2 separate regions of the Homo sapiens genome follow, and region 1 is linked to region 2. The links come from fine-mapping of genetic effects on gene expression. A gene starts in region 2. The other region holds a variant in brackets. All regions are shown on one strand. Distances are from middle to middle. Region 1 overlaps EXOC3 (exocyst complex component 3). Region 2 holds the start of SLC9A3 (solute carrier family 9 member A3).

Region 1 (5,361 bases), 58 kb after region 2:
GCCCTCCAGGCTGAGGGGATGTCAGACAGGAGGGGACCAGGAGGGCGCCCTCCAGGCTGAGGGGATGTCAGATACGAGGGGACCAGGAGGGCGCCCTCCAGGCTGAGGGGATGTCAGATACGAGGGGACCAGGAGGGCGCCCTCCAGGCTGAGGGGATGTCAGATACGAGGGGACCAGGAGGGCGCCCTCCAGGCTGAGGGGATGTCAGACAGGAGGGGATCAGGAGGGCGCCCTCCAGGCTGAGGGGATGTCAGACAGGAGGGGACCAGGAGGGCGCCCTCCAGGCTGAGGGGATGTCAGATACGAGGGGACCAGGAGGGCGCCCTCCAGGCTGAGGGGATGTCAGACAGGAGGGGATCAGGAGGGCGCCCTCCAGGCTGAGGGGATGTCAGACAGGAGGGGACCAGGAGGGCGCCCTCCAGGCTGAGGGGATGTCAGATACGAGGGGACCAGGAGGGCGCCCTCCAGGCTGAGGGGATGTCAGACATGAGGGGATCAGGAGGGCGCCCTCTAGGCTGAGGGGATGTCAGACATGAGGGGACCAGGAGGGCACCCTCTAGGCTGAGGGGATGTCAGACAGGAGGGGACCAGGAGGGCGCCATCCAGGCTGAGGGGATGTCAGACATGAGGGGATCAGGAGGGCACCCTCTAGGCTGAGGGGATGTCAGACAGGAGGGGACCAGGAGGGCGCCATCCAGGCTGAGGGGATGTCAGACAGGAGGGGACCAGGAGGGCGCCCTCTAGGCTGAGGGGATGTCAGACAGGAGGGGACCAGGAGGGCGCCATCCAGGCTGAGGGGATGTCAGACAGGAGGGGACCAGGAGGGCGCCCTCCAGGCTGAGGGGATGTCAGACATGAGGGGATCAGGAAGGCACCCTCTAGGCTGAGGGGATGTCAGACAGGAGGGGACCAGGAGGGCGCCCTCTAGGCTGAGGGGATGTCAGACAGGAGGGGACCAGGAGGGCGCCCTCCAGGCTGAGCGGAGACTTTTACTCTGTGATTGACAACAGTTCCTGGGCAATCCTAGATCAGTAGTCAGAAAACCTTAACTGGAAAAGAGAATGCATGGCGTTTTCATTTCTCTGAGGAAGCCGAGAAACTTTAATTAGGTGACGGGGTTCCGAGCACTTAAGCAGATGGGGTGCGGTGAAGGCCCAGGGAGGAGGAGGGCAGGGAGGTGCACGTCCTCTGTGCCCCACACACTTTCAACCACTGCAACAAACAAGCACCCAAGAGAGGCTGTGCGGCAGAGCCCTGCACCCACAGGCCTTTGACAGCACAGTGAGGGGCCTCCGCACGTGGCCTCGGGACGCTCACTCGACGCACACCCGGTGCATCACACTGGCACCTAAAGACAGGCCGTGCAGCTAAAAGGAGCACGTGTGGCCAAGGAGAGCAATCAGCTGTCCCGCGTTTCTAAAGGCAGGGACCGAGGCTGTGGAGGGGCGAGCAGGGCAGGCCGGCGGAGGCTACTTGAGCAGCTTGGCCACGTTCAGGCTGGGCACCACAATGTCCTTGAAGAGGGGCACGTAGCTGGGGCTGGCCTGTGCTGGGCCCTGCTCCAGGGTCTCCATGATGGTCTGCTTCATGTCACGGCTGGCGTCCCCACGCACAGCCAGCAGCGCACCGATGTGGTCATCCCTGGGGATGGGGAGATGTCAGCCCATGCCCACTTAGCAGCCCTGTGATGCACCACGCTGCCAGGGACTCACGGCTTCACCACCCCAGCTGACAGAACACAGGGGGTGAGGACCGCTGCAGACAAATTGCACCTTTCCCTTTTCAGCGGGAGACAAGCCTGCATTTTCATCTTACTCTGTCTTTTCTCAATCCAATTGCAGAAAGATTTTTCAACACTGCTTTTATAAATCTTTGTTCCGGCCCAACCAGAGGGGAGACCGTGGAGAGCTCAAGACCCCGTTTTTCCACGTTTAACCAGCGAGATGATGGGACGGAGGTGACGCGGCTGCAGCCATGGAGGTGGCCCCTTGGGGAAGTGGCAGGTGCCCTGAGACAGGGGCCGCAAAGGCTGGCCTGGGGCCTGGAGCCAGCATGGTGGAGGGGGGACGTGCGTGGGTCCCCTTCCCTGGACCTGGTACTGGGGACTCCCTGTAATCACGTCCTCGGAAGGTGTCTGGTCCAAGCTGCACTTGGGCCCTCCCGAGTCCACCATGAGCACAGAGGAAACTTCCTAAACTCGCCCCACTGAGGCCACTCCACAGCCCAAATCTTCCCCACCACACACAGCAGAGCTGTCACAGCCCCGCCCCCACCCCACTGTCCCCACCCGGGATGTGCCCCTCGAGCTCCACCCACCCACACTGTAGCCCAGGCCAGGTGGAAGGCAGCACAGAAGCAGCTCTGCTCCCTGCGCCTGGGCCCCGCTGTGCCGCACCTGAACCCTTGC[C/G]GTGCTGCAGGGCTGAACTTGCGAACCAGGAGCCCCACCCGCCCCAGACAGAAGGAGGGACCTGCCGCTCCACTCCAGGATTCTAAGGCAGGATTCTAAGACGTGCATCCCTTACCTGATGTCTGGATACTTGCTGACCAGAGTGGAGACCTCCAGGTAGAGCAGAGAAGGGTCTGTCAGCTTGATCACTTCGGCCACAGCCACGATGGTGTCGCAGTATCCGTCCACGTCTTCCCCGAAACCCTGGAAGGCAGCAGCAATGTGAGGAGCCGCCCTCGGCTGTCCCGCGGCGCTGGGAGCAGCTGGATTCTGGCTGAGCCCCTTCCTGACTGGGAACCTCCCTCTTCACCTGACTCCTCAGGATCTACTCTGAAAGCTCAGTGACAGGGCCAGGGGTCTGGGGTGAGGGCGAGACCGTGGGAGGCAGCCAGCACCTCGCAGCGCAGGACAGACTGGGAAGCGTCCGTCAGGGAGCTGTGGGCGGCCTCGGGAAGCCGGCGGGGCCGGCGCGTCTACCTCTGTGGACATTCGTGTCCAACCACAAGGTCAGGCAGGACCTGGACCCAGGCTCCCCCCGCCTGACAAACACACGACACACTCCCATCTACTGGCCCGAGTCCCGGGGTGGAGGCTGAACAGGGCCGCGGAGCGACAGGCCTTCTCCAGCCCGGACCTGCGCGACACTCACGGACGCCAGCTTCCGGAACAGGAAGCGCAGCTGCTCTGCCTCCCTAACCATCTTCTCGGCACCCTCCTTGCGCTCCTCCGGGCTCCGGAAGGAAATGCGCTTCTGCATGACCGCCCGCAGGTACTCCACCACCACGCGCCGGTGCGCCTCGGCCGTCATCCTCTGGGGAGACACGCGCGGTCAGCGGCAGGCTCCACGGCTCTGGCGGCCAGGAGCACCCTCATTGAAACCCAGGCTGGGGCTCCCGGTGGCTCCCCGGAGGCTCTGAGCCCACTCCTCCTCGCTCCGCCACGGCTCTGGCATCTCACCGCAGAGGAGGAGCGGGGGCTCAGTGGGGGAACAGTGACGGTGACCTGGACCCCCGCACCAGGCCAGCTCCGGCCCCCAGCAGGACAGACGCGGGCGAGGCAGTGCCGCGCATGAGCACTCGGTCCACAGACAGGCCCGTGTCAGTGGCTGCTGCTGTCCTTTGATAACGACCGCAGCATCTGGAAAACGCGGCAGGCACTTTGGAGGAAAGAGGAACCTGGGTCCTGCAGGAAGGAGGGTCTGAAGCGGAAAGAAATCCCTGGGGCCTCAGGGAGTGAGTGGAAGGCAAGGAGCTAAGACGGGGCACGCGGGCCTCTCCGGGAACCATGGCTCCCTCCACCTCGAGGGCCATGCCACAGGGCCCCGGCCATTCTCACCAGAGCCCCGTCCCAGGGAGGTGGCGTCCGCAGAGCCTATTGCCTCCCTTGGGCTGATAGGACAACAAGTGAACGTTCACTCACGGAGGGACTCGCTGGATGCTGAATTCTGAGCAGGGTGAGAGGTGAGCCCTAGCGTCAAGGTGATGAGGGAACTAGGTCCCACCTTCTTACCTTCTTATACGGCTTTTTAATTTTGGCAAAATCGTTGAAATAGTCTTCCACGGTGACACAGATAATGTCTACAGCGTTTGACCCTAATAGCCACTTCTTCGTCATCAATTCATTCAGATGTTGCTGAAAAGCAGAAACAGATCATAGAAATCATCACCTCAACGTCCCACGAGAGCCGAGTGCATGTGGGAGGGAGGCACTTCCTCACCTCAACGCCCCACGAGAGCTGCGTGCAGTGTGGGAGGGAGGCACTTCCTCACCTCAACGCCCCACGAGAGCTGCGTGCAGCGTGGGAGGGAGGCACTTCCTCACCTCAACGTCCCACGAGCACTGAGTGCGTGTGGGAGGGAGGCACTTCCGTGCATCTTTGCTACGTCACACTGCTTTTCTAATTACAACAGCAATGCGCACTCAGGTAAAAATTTGATTATATAATCTGCAAATGTGTACTTTAAGTATAGGAGATTTATACTACAATTTCTGTGATGAGCTTCCCAAAATGACATGTTAAAGATGGAAATATCTGTGCATGTATACATTTTACCTTTAGTGGCTACATATATTTATCGTATTTATTTGCCCAATTCTCTATTGATGGACATTTAAATTTTTTTCACATTTTGCAATAATGCAACAGTGAATCTGTATAATTCTGATGAAATTCCTTAAAGTTGAATTTTTCAGTCAAAAAGTATACACATTAAAACCAATAAAAGTATACAAATTAAAACTCCAATAAAAGTATACAAATTAAAACTCCAATAGAAGTGTACAAATTAAAACTCCAGTAAAAGTTACAGATTAAAACTACAATGGCTGTATTTCCAAGCTGCCCTCAAAAACCCAACCCAGTTCAGGCCCACACAGAATACAAACAGCCCCTTTTTCCCACACCCTCAACAAGCCTGAACAGCATCCACGTCTCCGGCTCCTGCCATCCTGCTGAGCAGCAGGTCCTGTTGAGCATTCATTGCTTCGAGGATAAGATCGGGCGTCTAGTTTCACGATGAGGACACTGGTGTTGCTTTTAATGTGAGGTGGCCGTTCATGTCTTTTGCCCATTTTTCTATATATTCTTTTTAAATTTTGAAATAATTTCAAATGTAAATATTTTCTTCTTGCTAAGTCATATTTGCGAAAGTTACAAGTGTCTGCCTCTTTGGGGACACTTCCACACACATTTCTGTTCTCTTGCACAACCAGACACTGATGAATCAGCAACCAATCCCACCCCTCATCCCAGGAACCCCTTTCCAGCAGGACCACCAGATGGCCATGGTCTTATTATTTTGTTGTTGTTGTTGTTTTGAAATGGAGTTTGCTCTTGTTGCCCAGGCTGGAGTGCAATGGCGCGATCTCTGCTCACTGCAACCTCCACCTCCCGGGTTCAAGCAATTCTCCTGCC
Region 2 (5,361 bases):
CACACTGGTCTGGTGGAAATTTGGCCTTCCTGTGGAATGCAAGGGCAACATCTTCAGAGAGGACGTCGTTCCTAACGGCTCCACCCAGGAACCATAAGGAAAGAGCAGGGAAGCTCCGGACTGGAGGGAATCCTGTTCTTGTCCTGCTGGCTTTTTCTCTGGGACAAGAGGCTGGGAGTGGAGTGGGGGACAGAGACAGGTGGGGCAGGGACACAGGCCAAGAGCGACTCCGATGCTCCCACCTCGCAAGACCATACTAGTGGCCAGTCACACACTTCCACTCCCCCGGTGCCCTGTCCAGACCCTGCAGTGGCCCAGGCCAGGGCTGCCCTCCCTCCACGCCACTCAGCAGCCGAGTCACCAGGCGAGCACCATCTGAATGCACCTTCCCTGTGCTACACGGGCCACTTCCATTAGCATGAAACTGGGGCCCTTGCAGGGTGAAGTCATTGAACTCAGCACTGTCCTCCTCAGGCCTCCGCAGCCCCCACTCAGATGTCAGAAGACACATCCATCCTCCATCTGCACCCACCCCACCGCCCACCTGCCCTTTGTCCACCTATCTGTCCTTCCATCCATCTATCATCCATCCGCTCAGCCACTATCTTGCGAGTGCTATTGTGTGCCCAGCTATCTTCCAAGCTCCTGGGATGTATGCATGAGCCCCTTGCTCGTGGAGCAGACATTCCCAGGGTGAGGGCAGACAGCTCAAGGTCAAAGCCAGCAGCCCCCAGGGCTGGGAGGTGAGCTGATTCCCGGAGCCAACCGAGTAAGCAGGGGAGGCGGGAGCTTAGCTGCCACAGTTGTGAGCTGAGTGGGTATCGGGTGGGACCAGAAGGTGGCATTGGAGCCAAGCCCCTGGGGAGCTGAGGAAGGGAGCACACAAGAGCCGTCCAAACAGAGGGAGCAGGGCGTGCAAAGGCCCCGAGAGGCGCCGATTGCTGGTGTGGGCCGTGGAGTGCATGGGGGTGGGGGTCAGGCAGTGGCTGGGGTCTGAGCTCCCGGGAGACGTTGAGCCTTTCCTCTGAGAGGGAGGGTCCCAATAGGAGGGACTGAAGGGGCAGGTAGAGGGCCGAGCAGGAGCCTTTGCAGGTGGCTGCAGGCTCCCAGAAGCCGCTGGTTTTGTGCACATTTTGAAAGTAGAGCAGATATGCTAAGAGCTTGGAAACCTTGTGAGCGAAAGAAGTCCACCTGCGTCCCAGGTCTGGGGCTGGAAGGCTGCAGGGTGGGCTTGGAGGAAAACAGGGGTGTGGTTTGCACAGTGGAGCCTGAGATGCTTAAGAGAGCCAGTGCTGCCGGAGCGGGCTGTGGGCAGAGGCCCCGCATCCGTGTGAAGCCCTGGGGGTATCGAATTGTTTTGGGCGGAGGTCTAAAGGCAGGGGATGGGGCAGGGGAGACCACGGGGGCCCCTGGGCTCCCATCTCAGAGCCTGGGGTGGGGGATGCTGGCTGGCGATGGGAGGGGCAGAGAGACTTACCAGCGCACCACGCAAGGCCTGGGCGCCCCCGAGTTCTGGTAAGTGGCCGGTCCGGCTGTGGAATGCAGGTTCCTGCTGAAGACAATAGCGAGGGGCTGTGTGAAGACACACCTGGGGCCCCTGTGCACCCTTGGGCCGCCCTGTGGGGTCTGCGCAGCCCCAGGCCCTGCGTTTATGAAGGAGGGTTGGGGCGAGCGCACCCACAGCTGCCCGGGCATCCCAGGAGCTGCGCGGAACCGCCTGTCCCGCTGCCCCGCGCTGTGCTCCCCACGCCCCAGGAAGGCGGCCGCGCAGTCCCGGGCTCGCTCTTGCCGCGACCTCCCGGACCTCCAGGCCGCGGGCTCCGGGGGAGGGTGGGCACCAGGGAGCGCGGGGTGGGCGTGCGCGGGCGGGGCGGGCGTGCCGGGAGCTGCGGCGGTGTCTGCGCTCGCGAGTGCGCGGCGGGGGCGGGCAGGCTCCGCCCCGGGGCGGGAGGGGGCCGCGGGATTAAAGGCCACCCCGGCGGGCGGGGATCGGACTGTAGCCGGTACCGGCACCGGAGCGCGCCGGGTCCTCGCCGGGTCCCAGCCCCGCGCGTCGGCCCAGCCCAGCCGGGACCCCCCGCGACATGCGCGTCCCAGCCCTGCGCTGAGCAGGCGGCAATGTGGGGACTCGGGGCCCGGGGCCCCGACCGGGGGCTGCTGCTGGCGCTGGCGCTGGGCGGGCTGGCGCGGGCCGGGGGCGTCGAGGTGGAGCCCGGCGGCGCGCACGGCGAGAGCGGGGGCTTCCAGGTGGTCACCTTCGAGTGGGCCCACGTGCAGGATCCCTACGTCATCGCGCTCTGGATCCTCGTGGCCAGCTTGGCCAAGATCGGTAAGTGGCCCCGGGGTCTCCGGATCTGCCCGCGGGGTGTGCGGCCGCCTCTGCTGGGCCTGGGGGCTTCGTTGTGGCCGCGCGCATCAGGTCGGAGCCGCGCGGCGGCCGCCCGGGAGAGTCCGGCTCTCGGGTCCAGCAGAGCGAGACTCGGGAGCGACTCTGGCCGCGCTAAGCCGCCCCTGCGGGTCCCGAGGTCTCCCCTCCCCGGCGGGGGCACAGCCTCGGAGCCCCGGACTCCCGGCTCCCGGGTCCCTGTGGGGTCTCCGCCCCGCCTCCGCTCCGAGCCCCGCAGACTGCAGGCTGCTCGCGCCCAGGGAGTCCCCGGGGCCGGGTTTCCTTCGGGGTTCTCAGGCTTTTTAGAGAAACGTCCTTGGAGTGATGGCGTTTTTTCGTGAGTTACAAGGGCAGAAAAGAAAAGCGGTGCTACCCGCATGAAACCCAGCAGAATCCTCCCTACAGGCGCAGCGTTCCCATTGGCGGGCCTCCTTTTTTTTTTTTTTTTTTAGAAAATCCCGGTCGGTCAGATTTCTCTTCTTCTTAACCGGCGCCAATGAACCAGTAATGTGGGCACGGCAGGTAGCTCCTGGCAAGGTGACAGGAAGGTCAGCTTCCTGAGGAGCTCGTGGGGATCAAAGTTTCATGTGTTGGTCCACAGGGTAGGGTCTCTCCAGGGGTGGCAGGGAGGTGGTCACTCGTGTGGAGGGGGGATTAGGGGGCCCGAGTGGGGCCAGGAGAAGCAAGATCAGAGCAGCAGGCGCCGCGGCAGGTTTCCAGAGCAGCTTTGGACTGGGGCGAGAGGAGGTTTCGATGCTGGGGCCGAGGAGGGGCGCCCACGCAGGACAGGGGAGGGACAGGCTCCGGGGAGAACAGCTGAGAGGACCTTGGCCTTGGTGGAACCTGGTACGCCCAGCAGGCTTGATTGGAGAAGGCGCCTTTTCCTTCAGTGACGCCTGCCGCCTGCCCTATTTATGCCAGGGTCTCCCCTCCCCTTCAGGCCCCTTGTGTGTTTGCTTTCTGTCTCATAAGGGCTCTTCTGAGCCCTCCCGCCTCCTCCCTTCTCCGCAGCCTCCTCCTCGCCCTGGTGTCTTTCAGCTCCCCGCCGGGCTGCCTGCTCTCCAGGCTCAGGCTGTCCTCCCTGGGCTTTCCACTGGGGGCTTGGGATGCTGGCCGGGGGGGAGTCTCTGAGGCTGGCTGCCTCCTACAGTTGATTTCCTTGAGAAGGGCCCCTGGGGCATCAGGGAGGTCCAGACTCAACCTGGGCTCTGCGGCCGCCCAGTCCTAAAGCTCACCCTGCTTTCCTCTGACGGGAGTGCCCCCCTGGTGTAAACTGAAAAGGTAATTTCTTTTTTTTTCTTTTTTTTTTTTTTTTGAGATAGAATTTTGCTCTTGTTGCCCAGGCTGGAGTGCAATGACGCGATCTCGGCTCACTGCAACCTCCACATCCTGCCTCAGCCTCCCGAGTAGCTGGGATTACAGGCATGAGCCACCACGCCCAGCTAATTTGTATTTTTAGTACAGACAGGGTTTCTCCATGTTGGTCAGGCTGGTCTTGAACTCCAGACCTCAGGTGATCCACCCGCCTCGGCCTCCCAAAGTGCTGGGATGACAGGCGTGAGCCACCGCGCCCGGCCGTGAATATCTAATTTCTGTACAAGCTGGGGCCTCTCCCAGTTTAGCCCAGTGTACAGAGTCAGAATCTGGCATCTGAAGGTCCAATGACAGCCGCCAGGCACCAGCCAGCCCCGCCTGGGAGCCGGCAGATAAGGCACACTGACCAGGGCTTTGCCTGGCCTCAGAGTTTGTTATTCACAGGGAAAAGCCTTCAGGTCTCCCAAACACTTGGACTGGTTCTGGGAAGACGTCCTTGAGGGCGGGGAGGCTGCCGGCTCCAGCAGCAACTCCCCGGGGCAGGGCGGTCCTTTACAAAGGCCCACCCTGATAGCACTCAGCGGCTGTCTTTGTCTCGGATTGTTGGCTCCACCTGGGAAGGCGAGCCTTACCCTGTGCAGCTGTGGGAGCTCATCGCGGTATCCCACAGGCGCAGACCCTCTCCAGACCTGCCCTTTACGCTCCCTGTCGTCCCCTCAACCCACTGTGCACTCTGCAGCCCCGGCAGTGACAGCTGAGGTCTGCTCTGGGTCTGCCCGGATTGGCCCCCAGGGTGTCCCACCCTCCATCCCCTCTCTGCCAGCCACACCTCTTGAACACAGCCCCCAGCCCTCCCTGTGTGCTTCCTCCCCCAACCCCTTCCCTGTGAACTCTGGACTTCTCAGATTCCACTGGCCCAGACCGTCCTCCTTGTGCAGCCAGCCTCAGGTGCACGACCTGTGTTCCCAGAGGACCCTCAGGTCCAGGCCTTCACAGACACCGGGGCCCAAGCCTGCACCACAGCGGGAACTTCTCCAGTTTCACCCAGCCTCCTCCACATGCCCACAGCCCCCGGACTGGGGTCTGAACCTACTAAGCTGCTTGGCACATTTTGTTGTTTAAAATGGTCAGGGGTTGGCCACACTCTTTCAGTCTCAAGTTACACGAACAGAAATGTCTCTTCCAGCAGAAAAGAGCTGCCATTCCTGTTGCTTTTCCAAACATTTGTTGAATTTCTCACACATCCTGAGAGTTTCTAACTCACAGCCCCAGCCTTCTTCAAGCCATTTGTAACCTGGTTGGGGAAATAAGAGTCCGGGTACCCTGAAACCCACAGCAATGTTGATCCCAGGAGATTTCTACTCCAGGCAGCTTGGGACAGAGGATGGCCAGAGGGCCAGAGCTGCCTCAAGCAAACACTGGGGCTGGGGCCTCAGCAGGTGGCCCAGGAGCCTGGGCAAGGAACAGGTGCTGCTGTTGGCCCACCAGCCTCAGGCCGCGTGTCTGGCTCCGGCAAGGGCTCCCCACAAGCCCCCTATTTGTGTGCACTGGGGTTCCCCTGCCTTTTACAGCATCTTTTTAAAATGCAGAAGGGGAGGCAAGGGCCGAGGCCACGGAGCCACTCCACAGCGCAGACCTCCCAGACTGAGAGGACGAGGAAG

Evidence for each region. PIP is the estimated chance that this variant, and not a neighbour inherited with it, causes the effect.
Region 1: its variant is the best candidate, but not a certain one, in a credible set for the expression of SLC9A3 in atrial appendage (GTEx, PIP 0.87).

The regions. Positions count from the first base shown.
Region 1 is chr5:463,008-468,368 of GRCh38, reverse strand. EXOC3 (exocyst complex component 3) reads right to left here. Exons shown (of 13, transcript NM_007277.5): 10 at 3,957-4,079; 11 at 3,097-3,258; 12 at 2,524-2,651; 13 at 1,079-1,642. The coding sequence ends at 1,471. Among named protein-coding and RNA genes, the nearest start is that of SLC9A3-OT1, 7.3 kb to the left of the region's middle. The variant C/G (reference allele first, on the strand shown) is at 2,409.
Region 2 is chr5:521,080-526,440 of GRCh38, reverse strand. SLC9A3 (solute carrier family 9 member A3) reads left to right here and starts at 1,992. Exons shown (of 17, transcript NM_004174.4): 1 at 1,992-2,329. The coding sequence starts at 2,119. LOC107986395 (a long non-coding RNA gene) reads right to left here and starts at 1,783. Exons shown (of 2, transcript XR_001742543.1): 1 at 1,478-1,783; 2 at 1-29. RefSeq lists an enhancer at 1-425.